Linked DNA regions of Homo sapiens: region 1 is linked to region 2. Evidence: fine-mapped expression QTL. A gene starts in region 2. The other region holds a variant in brackets. All regions are shown on one strand. Distances are between the middles of the regions.

Region 1 (8,343 bases), 450 kb before region 2:
ACTGGCGTGAGACACCACACTCGGCTGTCACCGTCTTACTTTATTTAATATTTCAACCACTTTATATCCCTTTTTACTTTGCTCTACTTCAACCTTTTTTCATGACACTTATTCTATTAAATAAAAAAAACTATATTTATTTATGTCTATTGCTTATTATTCTGTTTGCCCTGGCAGAATAGTATAAAGACAGCAAAAGTCCTTTTCTATATTATATATTGCTCACTCATATGTCCCAAGGACCTAGAACAACTCCTGGCACAGAAGAGCCTCATAAATGTTTGCTGAGTGAATAAACTGTCAGAGACAGAAACATGTCATATAAAAATTTTCTTTTTTTTTTTTTTTCGAGACAGTCTCACTCTGTCACCCAGGCCGGAGTGCAGTGGTGCGATCTTGGCTCACGGCAACCTTTGCCTGCTGGATTCAAGCAATTCTCCTGCCTCAGCTTCCTGAGTAGCTGGGACTACTGGCGCGTGCCACCACACCAGGCTAATTTTTTGCATTTTCAGTAGAGAGGGGGTTTCACCATGTTGGCCAGGCTGGTCTTGAACTCCTGACCTTATGATCCACCCGCCTCGGCCTCCCAAAGTGCCAGGATTACAGGCATGAGCCACCGCGCCCGGCCCATAGAACAATTTTCTGGGGTTCCACTAAGAAAAGACTAAGCTGGGACTTCTGATCTCCCAGGAGACAGACTCTACACTGAAGGAAAGAACCTGGGTGATAGCTCCTAGTAGAATCTAGACAGCAAGCTCCAGCAGAGTAACAGAGATGTGGACAGACTGTATACCTCTCAAGGCAGGCCACTGCACGGTCTCTGCAACTTGAGGTTCGAGGCTCTCAACTCTAGTACCCACCCACCATATCTCTCCTTCATTCCGTCATTCATCGCATGTGTGGTGAGCCGGGCAGCATGGTTAGACTTGCTTGTACTTCTCCACATTCCACAGAAAAGAGGTGCCTGCTATCAAGTCCCTGCCTGCACAGGCCAGGCCCCACCCAGATACACATACACGTCTGAAAACCTTTGGCCTCAGGCTCAGCCCTGCACGCTGCCGAATCAGCCCTGAGCAAACCTGTCAGTGGACTGGGAGCCCCGTCCCGTCTCCCTGCGGCCTAGATCCCCTGTGATGCCTCAAATCCACTGCGCACCATAATCCGAAGGGCAGTACAAATGACAAAGTACAGCACACTGTAACAGACACCCACGCCACAGGCCACCCCCAACTCTGAGCTACTGAACTCCACAGTCATTTAAGACCTTTGTAACTTCCTCCCACGTTTACACTCATTTTTAAATATGTCTTCTATCCTGTGACTCACAGTGTGTGGCGGGAAGAGTAAGGTTAAGAGCACAGACTCTGCAGTTAAACCAAGCTTGCTCTGCTACTTATTGTTAGCTGTGTTACCTATCTATGCCTTCTTCTTTACTGGCAATATGGCAATAGTAATTGCACCTATGAAGTAATTATGAAGACGAATGAATTTAAAAGGTAAAGCTCATGGAACAATGAACATAGAACACACTCAAGATATGGCTCCTATAAACAAAATGAGGTATAGCCACACCATAGAATAGAATTAAGCTATAAAAAGAAATGAAGTATTGTTACACGGATAACCTTAAAAACATTATGCTAAGTCAAAAAAGCCAGACACAAAAGGCCACCTATTATGCAATTCCATTTATATGAAATGTCCAGAATAGGCAAATCCATAGATTCAGAAAGGAGATTTGTGTCTGCCAAGGGCTGTTGGGGAGTGGGGAGTAGAAGGTGACTGCTAATGAGTATGGGGTTTCTTCTGGGGGCAATAAAAATATTCCAAAATTAGAGAGTGATCAATGTGAATTTTGTACATATAGTAAAACCACTAAATTGTACACTTTTTTTTTGTCTGTTTTTTTTTTTTTTTTTTTTGGAGATGGAGTCTCACTCTGTTGCCCAGGCTGGAGTGCAGTGCCACGATCTTGGCTCACTGAAACCTCCGTCTCCCGGATTCAAGCGATTCTCCTGCCTCAGCCTCCAGAGTAGATGGGATTAAGGGCATGCACCGCCATATCCCGCTAATTTTTGTATTTTTTTTTTAGTAAAGACAGGGTTTTGCCATGTTTGCCAGGCTGGTCTTGAACTCCTGACCTCAAGTGATCCCCCTGACTCGGCCTCCCAAAGTGCTGGGATCACAGGCGTAAGCCAGCATGCCTGGCCGATTTTTAAAAGGTTATTATTATTTATCTTCCTCTTCTTTGAGCTACTCCAAGACAGTGCCCAAGTCTTACTGCTGTATCCTCTAAAGTATCCAACACAAAGCAAGACATGCTGTCAAATAAACTAAGTAACCATGACAAATGTGGAGCCAAAATTTTCTAGGAAACATCAACAAAGACTAGAACAACTGGGCAGCTTCGAGGAATGATTGGCAAACTTGGGCAAAGTTTTATCCCCCAGGCATCTGGAGTCGTGCCAGTGTACACTGACTCACTGTGGCTGAGGGTCAAGGGCAGGTTCTGCCAACAGGGGAAATGATCAGAAAGCAGAACTGAGACAGACCAGTTCAGGGAGAGAAAATATGGGGCGAGATGCCTCCTTCATCCTTTCACCAGGATTCACACTCAGAGACACCACTCAGCATGCACAGCACCCATTTCCAAAATGCAGACCTATTTGTATGGTCACTCTTCAATCGATGTAATTGCTACAAAAGCTAATAAACTGGAAAGACAGGTTGTGAGGCGAAAGAAAGCCATAGGAAGCAAATAGCCCTTATTTCAAAGCAGCAGGTTTTTGTTTGCTTTGTTTTTTGCTTGAACTGACAGTCAGTAAAGTATTCTTAAATATATTCTAGCACTCAGCTGAACCACCTTGCAACCTGCTTCATATACAGGTTCTAGAGGTCATTTTGTAGCAGGACATTTTAAACGGGGGAAAAACAGAAGGAGAAATAAGCAATTGCCTCAAACAAGGAAAACAGTCTCTTTACTTCATAGTGAAAAGAAAAAACAGACTAAGTTTCTTGCATCCTTTTGAATCCAAAAGCAATAAATACAGGAAATGTTAAATAATGAGAGCAAAATAAAAACCAATGTCCATTTGTTAGTATGGCTAACATAATTGAGAGGTGGATGACTGCCAGAAGCAGGTGAAGGTCAGTTGACTGGCAAATCCTCCAATTTTGCCCTAGAACTTTCAGAATGAGCTCCCCACCACTGACCCCCACTTCCAGTCACTTTAACCAAGATGCCCATCATCCTCTGTCTGTAGCATTCTCACTGCATTTCCAAATTACTCCAGGTTTTCCTGTTCCTACTTTTATGACCATCTGAAATCCAGATTCTTAAAAGTGCTTTTTAAAATATCCCATCATCTTTCATTTCTGTTAGCTACTTTTCTTTCTCCTTATCACTGCCCTAAATCCAGTTTTCAGTTATCTCTCTCTGTCTCTCTCTCTCTCTCTCTCTCTCTCTGAGACCATTTTCATTGCTTTTTACCTGGTTTATATTCAGTATATTGACTTTCTGATCCATCTTCCATATAGTCCCAGCATTATAAATGGACAAATGAATGAATGAGGCCTAGACTCCTTAACCTGGTCTTTGAGACCAACCACACCCACCAACCACATCACCCCTCGAAGGTCTTCTCCCACTTCTGGACACTCACTCCACATCTCCACACCAACCAACCGCCATTCCATCCCGTGTTGACCCTGTCAGAATTTAACACTCCTTTCTTTAGGAGGCACTTCCGTGACAAATGGTTTTTCACACTAAGGTAGCATTTAATAGAAGGTAACTTTTATCACTGGACACCTATGCAGTTTCAGCTCACCACAGATTTAACCATGTCTTATCTATAATGCCTTACTGTGCCCCTAAGTACCTAAGTAACAAAATAGGGGTTGCAACAGCAGCAGTGGTGTTCCCACCTGAGTGTCACTCAATGCATGCACGCTGAATATGCAAATGAATCAATGACCCAAACAGAAAAATAGCTGAAAATATTTATTTTGCACTACGCTAAATGTTCCACATACATTTCTGGTGTTTTTGGTGTTTTGTTTTTTTTTTTATTCTCAAAAGACTTACAAGTACAGGCGCACCTTGTTTGATGGTGCATTGCTTTACTGTGCTTCTCAGATAGTTGTGTTTTTTACAAATTGAAGGTCTGTGGCAATCCTGCATCGAGCAAGTGAGCACCACTTTTCCAACTGCAGGGTTCACATGCGTCTCTGTGTCACATTATGGTAATTCTCTTAATCTTTCAAACGTTTTCATTGTTATTATATGTTATGGTGATCTGTGATCTTTGATGTTACTATTGTAATTGTCTTGGGGCACCATGAATCACACTCATAGTGTGTTCTGACTGCTCCACAACCAGCTGTTACCCCAGCTCTCTCCCTCCCCATGGGCTTCCCTATTCCTTGGGACATAACAACTTTGAAGTTAGGCCAGTGCATAATCCTACAGTGGCCTCTAAGTGTTCAAGTGAATGGAAGAGACACATGTCCTTCACCCTAAGTCGAAAGACAGAAAT[G/T]GTTAAGCTTAGTGAGGAGAGCATGTCAAAAGCTGAGATGGGCTGAAAGGCAGGCCCCTTGTGCCTAACAGTTCGCCTAGCTGTGGATGCAAAGGAAAAGTTCTTGAAGGAAATTAAAAGTGCTACCCCAGTGAACACATGAATGATAGGAAAGTTAAACAGCATTGTTGTTAATATGGGGAAAGATTTGGTGGTCTAGATAGAATACCAAAAGCCAATGTCCAATCCAGAGCATGGCCCTAACTCTCTTCAATTCTCTGAGAGCTGAGAGAGGTGATGAAGCTGCAGAAGAAAAGTTTGAAGCTAGCAGAAACTGGCTCATGAGATTTAAGGAAATAAGTCATCTCTATAACATAGAAGTGCAAAGTGAAGTCACCAGTGCTGCCGTGGAAGCTGCAGCAAGTTATCCAGAGGCTCCAGCTAAAATAACCGATGAAGGTAGCTACAGTAAACAGCGTTTCAATGGAGATGAAACAGTCTTGCATTCAGAGAAGATGTCAATGCAACTTCCATAGTTTGAGAGAAATTAATGCCTGGCTTCAAAACTTTAAAGGGCAGGCTGACTCTCTTGTTAGAAGCTAATGCAGCTGGTGACTTTAAATGGAAGCCAATGTCCATCTACCATTCCGAAAATCCTAAGGTCTTTAAGAATTACACTAAATCTACTCTGCCTGTGCTCTATAAATGGAATAGCAAAGGCTAGATAACAACACATCTGTTTACAGCGTGGTGAATTACTGAATATTTTAAGCCCACAGTTGAGACCCACTGCTCAGAAAAAAAGATTCTTTTCAAAATATTTCTGCTCACTGACAATGCACTTGGTCACTCAAGCACTCTGATGGAGATGTACAATAAAACTAATGTTGTTTTCAGTCTGCTGATACAATATCTATTCTGCAACTCATGTACCAATGAGTAATTGTGAAGTAAAATTGAAGGCTCAGATGATTATCAGCATTTTTTAGCAATAATTCTTTTTTTTTCCAAGATGGAGTCTTGCTCTGTTGCCCAGAGCTGGAGTGCAATGGTGCAGTCTTGACTCACTGCAAGCTCTGTCTCCCAGGTTCAAGCAATTCTCCTGCCTCAGCCTCCCGAGCAGCTGGGATTACAGGCACCTACCACCGCGCCTGGCTAATTTTTGTATTTTTAGTAGAGACGGGGTTTCACCACGTTGGCAAGGCTGGTCTCTAACTCCTGGCCTCGTGATCTGCCTGCCTCGGGCTCCCAAAGTGCTGTGATTACAGGTGTGAGCCACTGTGCCCAGCCAATAAGGTATTTTTAAATTAAGATATGTATATTTTTAGACAAAATGTTATTGTACACTTAATACAGTATAGGGTAATGGGAAACAAAAAATTTGTGCGATTCACTTTATTGCAATATTCACTTTCTAGTGGTGGTGTAGAACTGAACCCACAATATCTTTGAGGTATACCTCTATGCAGTATCATCTCCATTTTACAAATAAGGAAACTGAAGTTCCAGTTTCTAAAACACAGAGTCAAAACACAGAAGTGCCAGGATTCAGTACTAGGTCTGTATACTCTAGAACCCATTCTCTTGATGACTAACCTCCTCTCCACTTTCTCTCTCCTCCTTTTCTACCTCCTCCATTTACAGGATAGAAAATGAAGCTTCAAAGAAGTTATAAAGCAAGACAGTCTGGGCATGGTGGCTCATGCCTGTAATCCCAGCACTTTGGGAGGCCAAGGCAGGAGGATCACCTGAGGTCAGGAGTTCAAGACCAGCCTGGCCAACATGGCGAAAGCCCATCTCTATTAAAAATATAAAAATTAGCCGAGAGGTAATTCCAGCTATTCGGGGGCTGAGGCAGGAGAATCACTTGAACCTATGAGGCAAAGGTTGCAGTGAGCCGAGATCGTACCACTGCACTCCAGCCTAGGTAACGAAGCAAGATTCTGTCTCAAAAAGTAAATAAAAACTTAATAAGAAAATAATAATAATAAAGCAAGACAAAGGCAGAATCAGAGACCTACATGTTGTCATGTTTCCAATGTTCAGAATAAAATCACTCAGGAGGAGACTCTGATTGCATTCAGAGGGGACACTCTGGTCTTATTAGAGGTCTGGTTTGAGGCAGTAACTTACAGTCGCTTGCACACAGACTCTAACACTAAACCTGGAGACTCCACACTTAGGTTTAAAATCCAGCTGCAATTCTTTTAACTTTGCAACCTTGAGCAGATCACTTCACTACTCTAAATCTCAGTTTTCCCATGAGTTAAATGAGAATCACAATGCCTATCCTACCTGATTGCTATAAGGAGAAATAAGGAAACGGGAAATTAGGCAATAAGCACCAGGAAGAAAAGACCCAGTTAATCTTTCTCATGGCTCTACCTCAGCACCTGGCATTGCCCTTGCGTGTTTTCTGAAATCTGAATCACAGGGTTTTGTTTTTGTTTTTTGTTTTTTTTCTCTTAAGACAGTCTTGCTCTGTCACCCAGGCTGGAGTGCAGTGGTGCAATCTCAGCTCACTGCAACCTCTGCCTCCCAGGCTCAAGCGATCCCCCTACCTCAGCCTCCGAAGTAGCTGGACTACAGGTGCACTCCACCAAGCCCAGCTAATTTTTTTATTTTTTGTAGAGGTGGGGTTTCACCATGTTGCCAAGGCTGTTCTTGAACTTGTAGACTCAAGCAATCTGCACATTTGGGCCTCCGAAAGTGTTGGGATTACAGGTGTGAGCCACTGTGCCTGGCCAAATCACAGCATTTTTGGTTTTTCTCTTATCTACTAATTATCTTCTGTCTGTTTGAGATCTAAGCATAGTAACTGATTTAAAAAGAAAAATAATAACAATGATGAGGACATTATTATCACCCTAAAACATAAGCAAAGGAAAAAATGATCACATACTACAGCCAGCAAACAAGAAAAAAGTACTTGCACTTCATTACAGCTGCTATGACTGCATGCTTTTCACAATAAAAGAGACTTAAAGGTAGAAAAAAGAAAGGCAAGCAGAAATATGAATAAATAGATTAAGAAACCCAGCTGATATTCTAACTGCCTAATCAAAAACAACAGGCCCTGCAAAATAATTGAAAGATCTGCTCAGAGAGAAGCAATTGAAGGCTCAAATTGAACAGTCTCGGCAATTTGTGGGAGAAGAGATATTCTGAAATGGCATAATGTAAGAACAAAGAACAAAGCATTTTTATCTGGCTCCCAAACAATTAAATGAACCTGCCAATTCCATGTGGAAGATGGGCTTTAAAGAACTGCAGTCGTGTCAAGGGAACATTCAAAGTCAGCCAGAATTCATTAGATGCCAGAGGAGAAACAGCTACAGATTTCTAAACAGGCATCTCCAACCCAGGCCAGAAGGAGCCGAGCACAGCCTAGAGCTGCTGGAGACTCAAAGAGAAACCATTCTTCTATCCCTTTCAGCGTGCGCATCTTGCCGAACTTCTGGACCCAGTTCCTGCCATAAGCGTGACTACTCCACGTGTACATAATCCCTGTGGAATTACAAAAATTAGGCTAAAGAGAAAAAAAAAAACCTGGTTGTGGGTTAGGAAGGCATATGATCAATCCTGACTCTGCCTTCCATGCAGATAGGGAAGAAGACTCCTCCTTCTGAGACCATCTCATCTGTGACATGGGACAAAGGTGGAAACATGCTGCACGAGGAATTCAGTTCATAAGTCAATGGATCTGGCAAAATCACATATGATAAAAGCGGCCTTAGGTCGGGCGCAGTGGCTCACACCTGTAATCCCAGCACTTTGAGAGGCTGAGGAGGGTGAATCACCTGAGGTTGGGAGTTCGAGACCAGCC
Region 2 (8,343 bases):
TAGTTCCAGGAAAATTAAGACACCCAGATTCAAAGGAAAGTACAAGAAACTATTCTAAGTAAAGGATAAATGGGCCTCCAAAATTACTGCTATTCCTAATGATTGTGAATTTTAAGTAGCTCATGCATTTATCTACGCATTCTACAAACGTTCACTGAATGCTCTGATATACCCAGCATAGTGCTAGGCATAATGCTTGATACAAAAATCACTAAGACACAGTCTCTGCCCTAAAGGACTTGAACTATAGCAACAAGTAAATCATGTTTCAAAAGACAAAGATGAAAATCCGTGGATTTGATCCTATGCATCTAAAACTGTATCTCATTGCCTCTCTGGAGTGCTTTCTCAGGAATAAGTATGCATCAAGGATAGAAAAAGTAAAATGAGCCTAACAGAGCTGAACCATATCTAATTTTTATGAGTCTATGAAATATAAAAGCAAGGAGTTTCTACCCTAGCGTCTTACTGAGCCATCTGCCACTGGAGAAATTTTACATCATGACTTGTATTCCGTAACAGTACACTGCACTCATAAATGCACTGGGCCACATGCATGAGGAGGAGCATCTGAAGTTCGAATGCCACTGCATGTTGAATGGATCAAGTAGGCACTTTGCACTGTTATCCAGGAGCTCAAACTCCCTGCAAGGTCTCCACATCTGGTTGTCTAGCTTAACCACCACAATTCTCATCTGAGAAGTCTTCTAGCCCAGTTGCACCAACTGGCCCCTGCATTCTCCAGTTACAACACTGTGTCTAAACATGGCTGCCGCATTTTCCCCACCTGGAATTCCTTCTCACCTCCTTTCTGTTTACATAAGTCTCACCCATTTTTCAAGTTGCAACTCCCCTACTGAAAGCTTCCCTCCTGGCTTGAGTTCTCACACTCAACTGCCAGAACATTTGCTGTCTTGTTTGGACATTAATTTATTTCAAGCAAATTTATTGAGCACGTCCCATGTATCAGACATTGTATATATATAATTTTGTGTGTGTATGTGTGTGTATAAAACATGCCTGATGCATGAGAGACACTCAATAAATAATGTATATATTTGTGTGTATGTGTGTGTATATATGTTAATGTATGTATATATGTATATATGTAAAGGAGATATTTCTCCTTTAAAAAAATTCAGTCTTAGCTGTTAATGCGGTAACAGGTTTTCTGAATGGTGGATTATGACAGGTTAAAAGAAGACGTGAGGTAGCAGCACGTGATGCGAGAGTGGGACCTCAGCAAACCAGCTCTCCTTCAGCCTCCTCTGGTCAGGGCAGAAGCAATCCACATGGGAAGTGACCCACATCCACTTCATTTGTATGTGTGTGTGTATATAAATATATATACACACACACACATATTTATATATACATTCATATATATGTATATATGTATTTATGTAAATATATGTAACATGTTACACATATACATACACATACACACACACACACACACACACATAATTTTTGCTGGAATGTAAATTCTCCGGGGGCAAGACTCTCTCATTCTTTACATTTCCAAGCACACTTGTAAAGAGCTCCATGAGTTGTATTGACAATGGAAAGCATAAAATAAGGCGAGGGTTCTGAGTACTATCATCATGTAGTCACCATGACACAAACCAAGGTTAAGACACTAGAGATAGTAACCAAAGGGCTTAGAGATACTCTGCAAAATAAATCAGTAAAACATAATGCTTGTTTGGTTATGGGTGAAGAAGAGGAAGGAGTTACACGCACTCTAAGGGTCTGAACCTCAATGGCAGACTCCAAGGAGTAGACTGTTCTTAGAAGCAAGGAAAGTGGGAGTTGGGAAGAGGAGCTGCTTTGGAGGCAGGGGAAGTGATCGTGTTTGAGGGTGTGAAAGGACACACGTGCAGACACCCAGTGTTCAGGGTGTTGTGTAAAGCTGTCTTGCTGATATGCAGCCAACCAGGGGTGTGGAATTTTAGACCTGCTACCTTTAGGTCAGTGATTCCTGCCAGTGACCTGTTTATTCTGATGCACCAAAGGACATGCTGGGGAACTTCATGGCTGTCTTTTTTGTATGAATCTCAAAATCTGGTGATGGTTTTCAGATCACTGCCCATGAAAATGCCCAGAAATTATCCATAAGTGCTATAGGAAACAATAGATAAATCAGATTTATGAATAAAACATAAAACTGGGTGTTTTGTTCTTAACTACATTTAAAATATAAGTAGACATGAGATCAGAAATCAGAGTGGAGTGGAGGGGAGGGAAGCATGCTGTGAAAATAAACGTCTGTTAATGGCTTCCTGTATTAGTCCATTTTCACACTGCCATAAAGATTACTACCTGAGACAGGGTAATTTGTAAACAAAAGAGGTTTAATTGACTTACAATTCCACATGGCTGGGGAAGCCTCAGGAAACTTACAAAGATGGCGAAGGTGAAGGAGAAGTGGGCACCTTCTTCACAAGACAAGAGAGAGGAAGCACGCAGGGGAAACTGCCACTTTAAAATTCATCACATCTCATGAGAACTCCCTCACTATCATGAGAACAGCATCGGGGAAACTGCCCCCATGATCCAGTCAACAGGCTGGGAACCACAACTCCAGATGAGATTTGGGTGGGAACACAAAGCCAAACCATATCACTTCCCCTTCCCTGACACTGTCAATCAACTTTTTATGTAAAAGATATTGGATATTTACTAATTTGCATTTTGGAGACATGTAATAGTATTTAGGGAAGCTATCTAATGAAGTATTTCCTTTCTGCTTCCTCATCCATCCAAAATTCCTGAGAGAAATGTTACAGGAAGCATCCAACATACCAAATAGAGGAGAGAAAAAGTAAGAAATACAATTAGTTTTAAAACATCAAGTCAAGCTTTCAACTGTTTACATGATACCCACCTATCCTTTAAGGCTCAGCAAAAGTCACTTTTCTGTGGCTTTTACCAGCACTCTTGAGTAACACTAATGGCCCCCTTCATTGGTTCTCCAATAGCACTTCACCCATTCCTCTGTTGCAGCATTTATCACTTTAGCTTGTAGTTGAATTCTGTCTGCAGAGCCAGACAATGGGCCCATTGATTGTAGGGCTGGAAGAGGAAAAAATGACTTACCTGATGAGATGAGGCACACACTGGATGTTGGTTGTTTTAGAGGTAAAAGGGGATGCCACAGATGCTTCCTGCTCTGATAATGAAATGCCTGCATGAGCCGCTTTCAAAGCCTGGAATGATAAGCCCATGTCTCACCCATGACTTTTCAGGTTAGGCTTTACCTCTTAAAACACCAAGAGGCTGTTCTTCACATCATAAAGGTATAACACTGTACTGTTTCATCTTTGGGTCTCTGTTTAATGCTGTCCCTCCACCTGGAGTGCCCTCTCTCCCCTGATCCACAAAGTCACTAACTAAACAATGACCCAGAGGTAGAAAAGTGGTGTGTGTACATGCATGCGTGTGTGCATGTGGGCATGTGCATACAAGGGCCCTGCCTGTGGGGATTATAGATGTGAAAAGGAGATGGAAGCCCTCATTCAAAAACTCAATTAAAAAGATGACAGAATTTGGATGGACGTTGGTTGGGGACCTTCACCGTTTCAGTTCTTGTACCTGGTGGGAATCTTCATGAACAAAGGTGAAAGAATTCCTAGGCCGATCCTATAAGAATTGTGTGGGCATAAAATGAACTTTTATATATCTGTAGTTCCACAGAACTACAGAGTACCTGGCGCCATGAGTACATACTAGATTCAGGTTTAATAAATAATAGGACATTTTCTTCTTCCTCTTTGATCTCTAGTTCGTATCTCTATTATGTACTTTAGGACCATCTACTTTATGTTAGGGTTAGTTTTATTCATGATTCTTTCTTCATCAGACAATGAACTCTTTAGGAGGCAGAGACTATGTCCCTTTTTGCATTTGATTTTTTTGTTTTATTCTAAACGCCACATAATTAATGTGAGAGGATACGTATTCTAGATTTGAAAGAACAGACTAAAAATTAGCTTTTTCTCATGAAACATAAAGCAAAAAACATCTCTAGCTATAAAAATTTCTAGCTATAAACACAGTTTTCACAGAAATTTGGAAATAATATTTAAGAGAGAAATAAAACAAATACCAAGATCTTAAATCTCTAATAAGCTTTGGAAATACAAAGAAATCTTCCTCACTTCTTGTCCCATAAATCAGCTACTGAAATATTTCCTTAAGTACATAATCTTGAAGGTAGACTATTTGTTTCCTTCATGTCTTTAAAACTCAGAATATAAAACATTCACTGCCCTTCTACTGCATATGAAAAATAATTTGCTGATAATCATTTTATTTAGCTTTTTCTATAGCATAAAATAACTAAATAGTTTGGTCTAGGATTTTACTGAGTGAAAGAGTTCTGGGTGAAGCAAACTTAAAAACTAACCAGAGAATGAAAGTTTGGCAGGAATAAATATAATTTACATATAATTCAAAACTTTAATCATCAGTTTCAAACTTCGTTTCATTGAGTCTTTATCAGTTGTGTGACCTTGGGAGGGGGGAAGAAATCACCTCCTTGAGAAATCATTTCATTACTGATAACAGGAAAGATTTAAAGCAGATAGACTTGTAAAGTTCCATCTTTGGAACCTGAAATATGGGAGTCTAAGTAGCCTTCCTTTGTGTTTATTATTCTAGGAGTTTCCAGAAAGCATCGGAAGTGTCTCATCTCCCTTTACTCCCCTCCGCTTCCAACCCACACTCAGGTAGAGGTGGATATAAACAGCAAAATAATCAAATGGTTGCTGGTGGAAGGATGAAGAGACAAACCCCAGGAGAGCCTGAGGTCCTCCAGAGGGATATTAGTGAGTGGCTTGTCTGAGCAAAAGCCATTTCTACTCACCCCACAGTCGTTAGCTCCATCTCCACACATGCCCACATAATAACTGCGGGAGACAGGAGAAGAAGGATTAATAGGTAAGAAAAATGAACAGCTCACTTGAATATTTTCCATCATAACTAAGTCACATGTGATTTGTGTGTATGTGTGTGTCCCCTGAACACACCTGGAATCAGGCTGAAGAAAAATGGTTTGGAGAGACATATTCCCAGAGGGAAAAGGCAGTTGCGTTATTTAAGTTGTTTCAATCAATCACATTGAAATGGTAGTGATATAACCAAGGACATCGGCAAAACAGTGATTGCACACTTTAAAAGAAGTCCTGCTTGATGATACGCACCAAGGCCAAGCTTAAGAGTATGCAGTCATGAGCAGAGCACTTCCCACACAACCTAATGCAGAGATCATAACCCAATCCAGCTGCATTTTAGTCACTGACTGTTGCTGAGCATTTACAGCTCAAATACCAGGATGAGAAATTTCAAAAACAGTTTAACAGATATAACTAGAGACATATATTCATATTTTTGATGCATGTCAGGGTGAAAATAAGATATGTTTTCCATCTATATCAGTTTGGTGTGCAAGCACAATACAAATAGAAGAGTAAAAATTAATACGGCTGCCAAAGAAAAGGAGTTTCAGATGTAAGACACTGCCTGCCTTCTATTATAAGTTATACATTATAAGTATTGATAAATGACAATATTCTTAAAGACTTAGCTGCATTTTTCTAAAAACAGAGTTATGAAATCAATAAGGAGAAAAAATAAAGTTTTGTTAGCGTTTCGTTATTATTAGTTAATGCATAAGAAACAACCACTTTTATAGGTCAAAAACAGTTAATTAAATGTGGCCAGGCACGGTGGCTCACACCTGTAATCCCAGCATTTTGGGAGGCTGAGGCAGGCGGATCTTGAGGTCAGGAGTTCGAGACCAGCCTAGCCAACACAGTGAAACCCCATCTCTACTAAAGATAGAAAAAATCAGCTGGGCATGGTGGTGTGCTCCTGTAATCTCAGCTACTTGGGAGGCTGAGGCAGGGGGATTGCTTGAACCTTGGAAGCGGAGGCTGCGGTGAGCCGATATTGCACCGCTGCACTCCAGCCTGGGCAACAAAGCGAGACTCTGTCTCAAAAACAAAAAAAAGTCAAATGTAGGCACACCCCTATGGTTCAATCCGATACTGGGCTGTGTAGATGAAAATAATCATGCTATATATGTTCATGTCATGACTACCCACAATTGTTGAAAAATGGCTCCTTCTTTCAGGCTTAAAGCACATATTTAGTCTCTATATCACATCAAGAATCTTATCATCTTCTAGTATTCCCTGAATTCAGAAAGAGAATGCAGACAGCCTTATGCACATTGCCAATGACAAAGGCATGAGGAGGAAGATTGGGATGTTGAGAAGACAGCTCATTCTGAGGCAGTGTGTGTCTTCCTGAATTCATTTTTTAAGGGGAATATGGCTTTTCAAAGTTAGGCATTTTAGTTGGCAAAATTTCTCAGGCATTTGAAAAAGGTAAAATTACTTTCTTCAGCAATATCATGTAATGATCATGTGAATGAAATAGTCATTTAGTCACTGGTTACTTACCCAGCCTCAGGCATTCTGGAAGTTAATAGGCAGTTTGTAAGACTTCCCTATGAATGCTTGGGTAACAAAATCTAACAATAAAAGGGTGTCTCCTGATTTCACCAACAACTCACCAGCCATCATCTAAAGATTCACTACCCTATGTTCCTTTTCACTTCCTAGACTCTGCAGCCCCAAACTGTTACATTCCCAGAAACCAGTAGGTAGATCTGGTCTCAAGAAGTACCATTTCACTATAAGGTAACTTGGTCATCTTTATTTTTGAAGGGGGTAATAAAGGACTTTCTCTTGACTTTCCCTGCTGGGGCCAGATAAAGGCAAAATGCTATTTCACCTCTTGCTAAGAAGACCAGAAATTATTCACATATCTTCTAATGGACCAACCTAAAATAATTCCAGGGTATAACGCACCTACTTCCCCATTTTTCTGATTCTAAGCTATACAACCTGCCCCACTATTTCTGCTACATCCAAGCATGGGAGGGTTCTCTAAGATATATGCCTTATGGCCCACAGAACAAATGCTCTCTGGAATAGGTAACTTCTAAATGGCCCTCAGCGATCCCCAGCTCCTGGCATCCACGCCCTGTGTAATCCACTCCCCTGGACGTGGGCTGGATCTAGTGGCTTACTCCTAAGGAAGGGAATACGGCAAGGGTGATGAGACTGGCATATAAAAAACAGCAACATCCGTCTTGTGTGCTCTGTCTCTGGTTCTTCTTGCTTGCTTGCTCTTTTAGAAGTCAACTGTTGCACTGTGAGCTTCCTTATGCAATGGCCCCTGTCACAAGGAACTGAGGTTGGCTTCTGTCCGCTAGCCAGTGAAAAACTGAGGTTCAGTCCAACCGCTCATGAGGCACTGAGCATTCAACATGTGAATGAGGCTGGTGAGAGATTTTTTTCCCCACTCAAGCCAGTGCTTGAATTTTTTTTTAATCCCCTTTTTTAAACTTTTATTTTAGGTTTGGAGAACATGTGCAGATTTGTTATACGAGGGAACTCATGTCACGGAGGTTTGTTTTACAGATTATTTCATCACCCAGGAATTAAGCCCAGTACCCAGTAGTTATTTTTTCTGCTCCTCTTCCTCCTCCCACCCTCTGCTCTCAAGTAGACCCCAATATCTGTGTTTTTCTTCTTTGTGTCCATGTGTTCTCATCATTTAGCTTCCACTTGTAAGTGAGAACACAGTATTTGATTTTCTGTTCCTGCATTAGTTTGCTAAGGATAATAGCCTCCATTTCCATCTGTGTTCCTGCAGAAGTCATAATCTCATTCTTTTTTATGACTGCACTGTATTCCATGGTGTGTACGTACCACATTTTCTTTGTCCAATCTGTCATTGCTGGGCATTTAGGTTGATTCTATGTCTTTGCTATTGTGAATAGTGCTGCAGTGAACAGTCACATGCATGTGTCTTTATGGTAGAATGATTTATATTCCTCTAGGTATATAGCCAGCATTGGGGTTGCTGGTTCAAATGGTAGTTCTGTTTTAGCTCTTTGAGGAATTGTCATACTGCTTTCTACAATGGCTGAACTAATTTACACTCCCACCAATAGTGTATAAGTGTTCCCTTTTCTCTGCAATCTTGCCAACATTTGTTATTTTTGACTTTTTAATAATAGCCATTCTGACTCACACCTGAATTATTGACCCATAGGTAGCAAGAGTTAATGAGCACACTCTTCTTTCATGCCATGACACCTACTTTAATTTCTGAAATTCTTCAATAAGGCTTGATTTCTGCCCAGGAGACATTCTTGCAAAAACTGTTCCATTCACCAGAATCTAAAAAGAAAAAACAACCATTGCAATATGATTGGGAAGAAGAAAACTTTTAAAAATAAAAGAACAGCCCTGAAAAATCACTCCT

Evidence for each region.
Region 1: its variant is fine-mapped to the expression of ATP13A5-AS1 in whole blood (TOPMed, PIP 0.96).

Annotation. Positions count from the first base shown.
Region 1 is chr3:192,849,590-192,857,932 of GRCh38, forward strand. All of the region lies in intron 1 of MB21D2 (Mab-21 domain containing 2), which reads right to left. Among named protein-coding and RNA genes, the nearest start is that of MB21D2, 64 kb to the right of the region's middle. RefSeq lists enhancers at 1,444-1,493, 1,524-1,573. The variant G/T (reference allele first, on the strand shown) is at 4,539.
Region 2 is chr3:193,302,460-193,310,802 of GRCh38, forward strand. ATP13A5-AS1 (ATP13A5 antisense RNA 1) reads left to right here and starts at 4,785. Exons shown (of 2, transcript NR_046758.1): 1 at 4,785-4,941. ATP13A5 (ATPase 13A5) reads right to left here. Exons shown (of 30, transcript NM_198505.4): 21 at 8,179-8,258; 22 at 4,868-4,910; 23 at 3,100-3,209.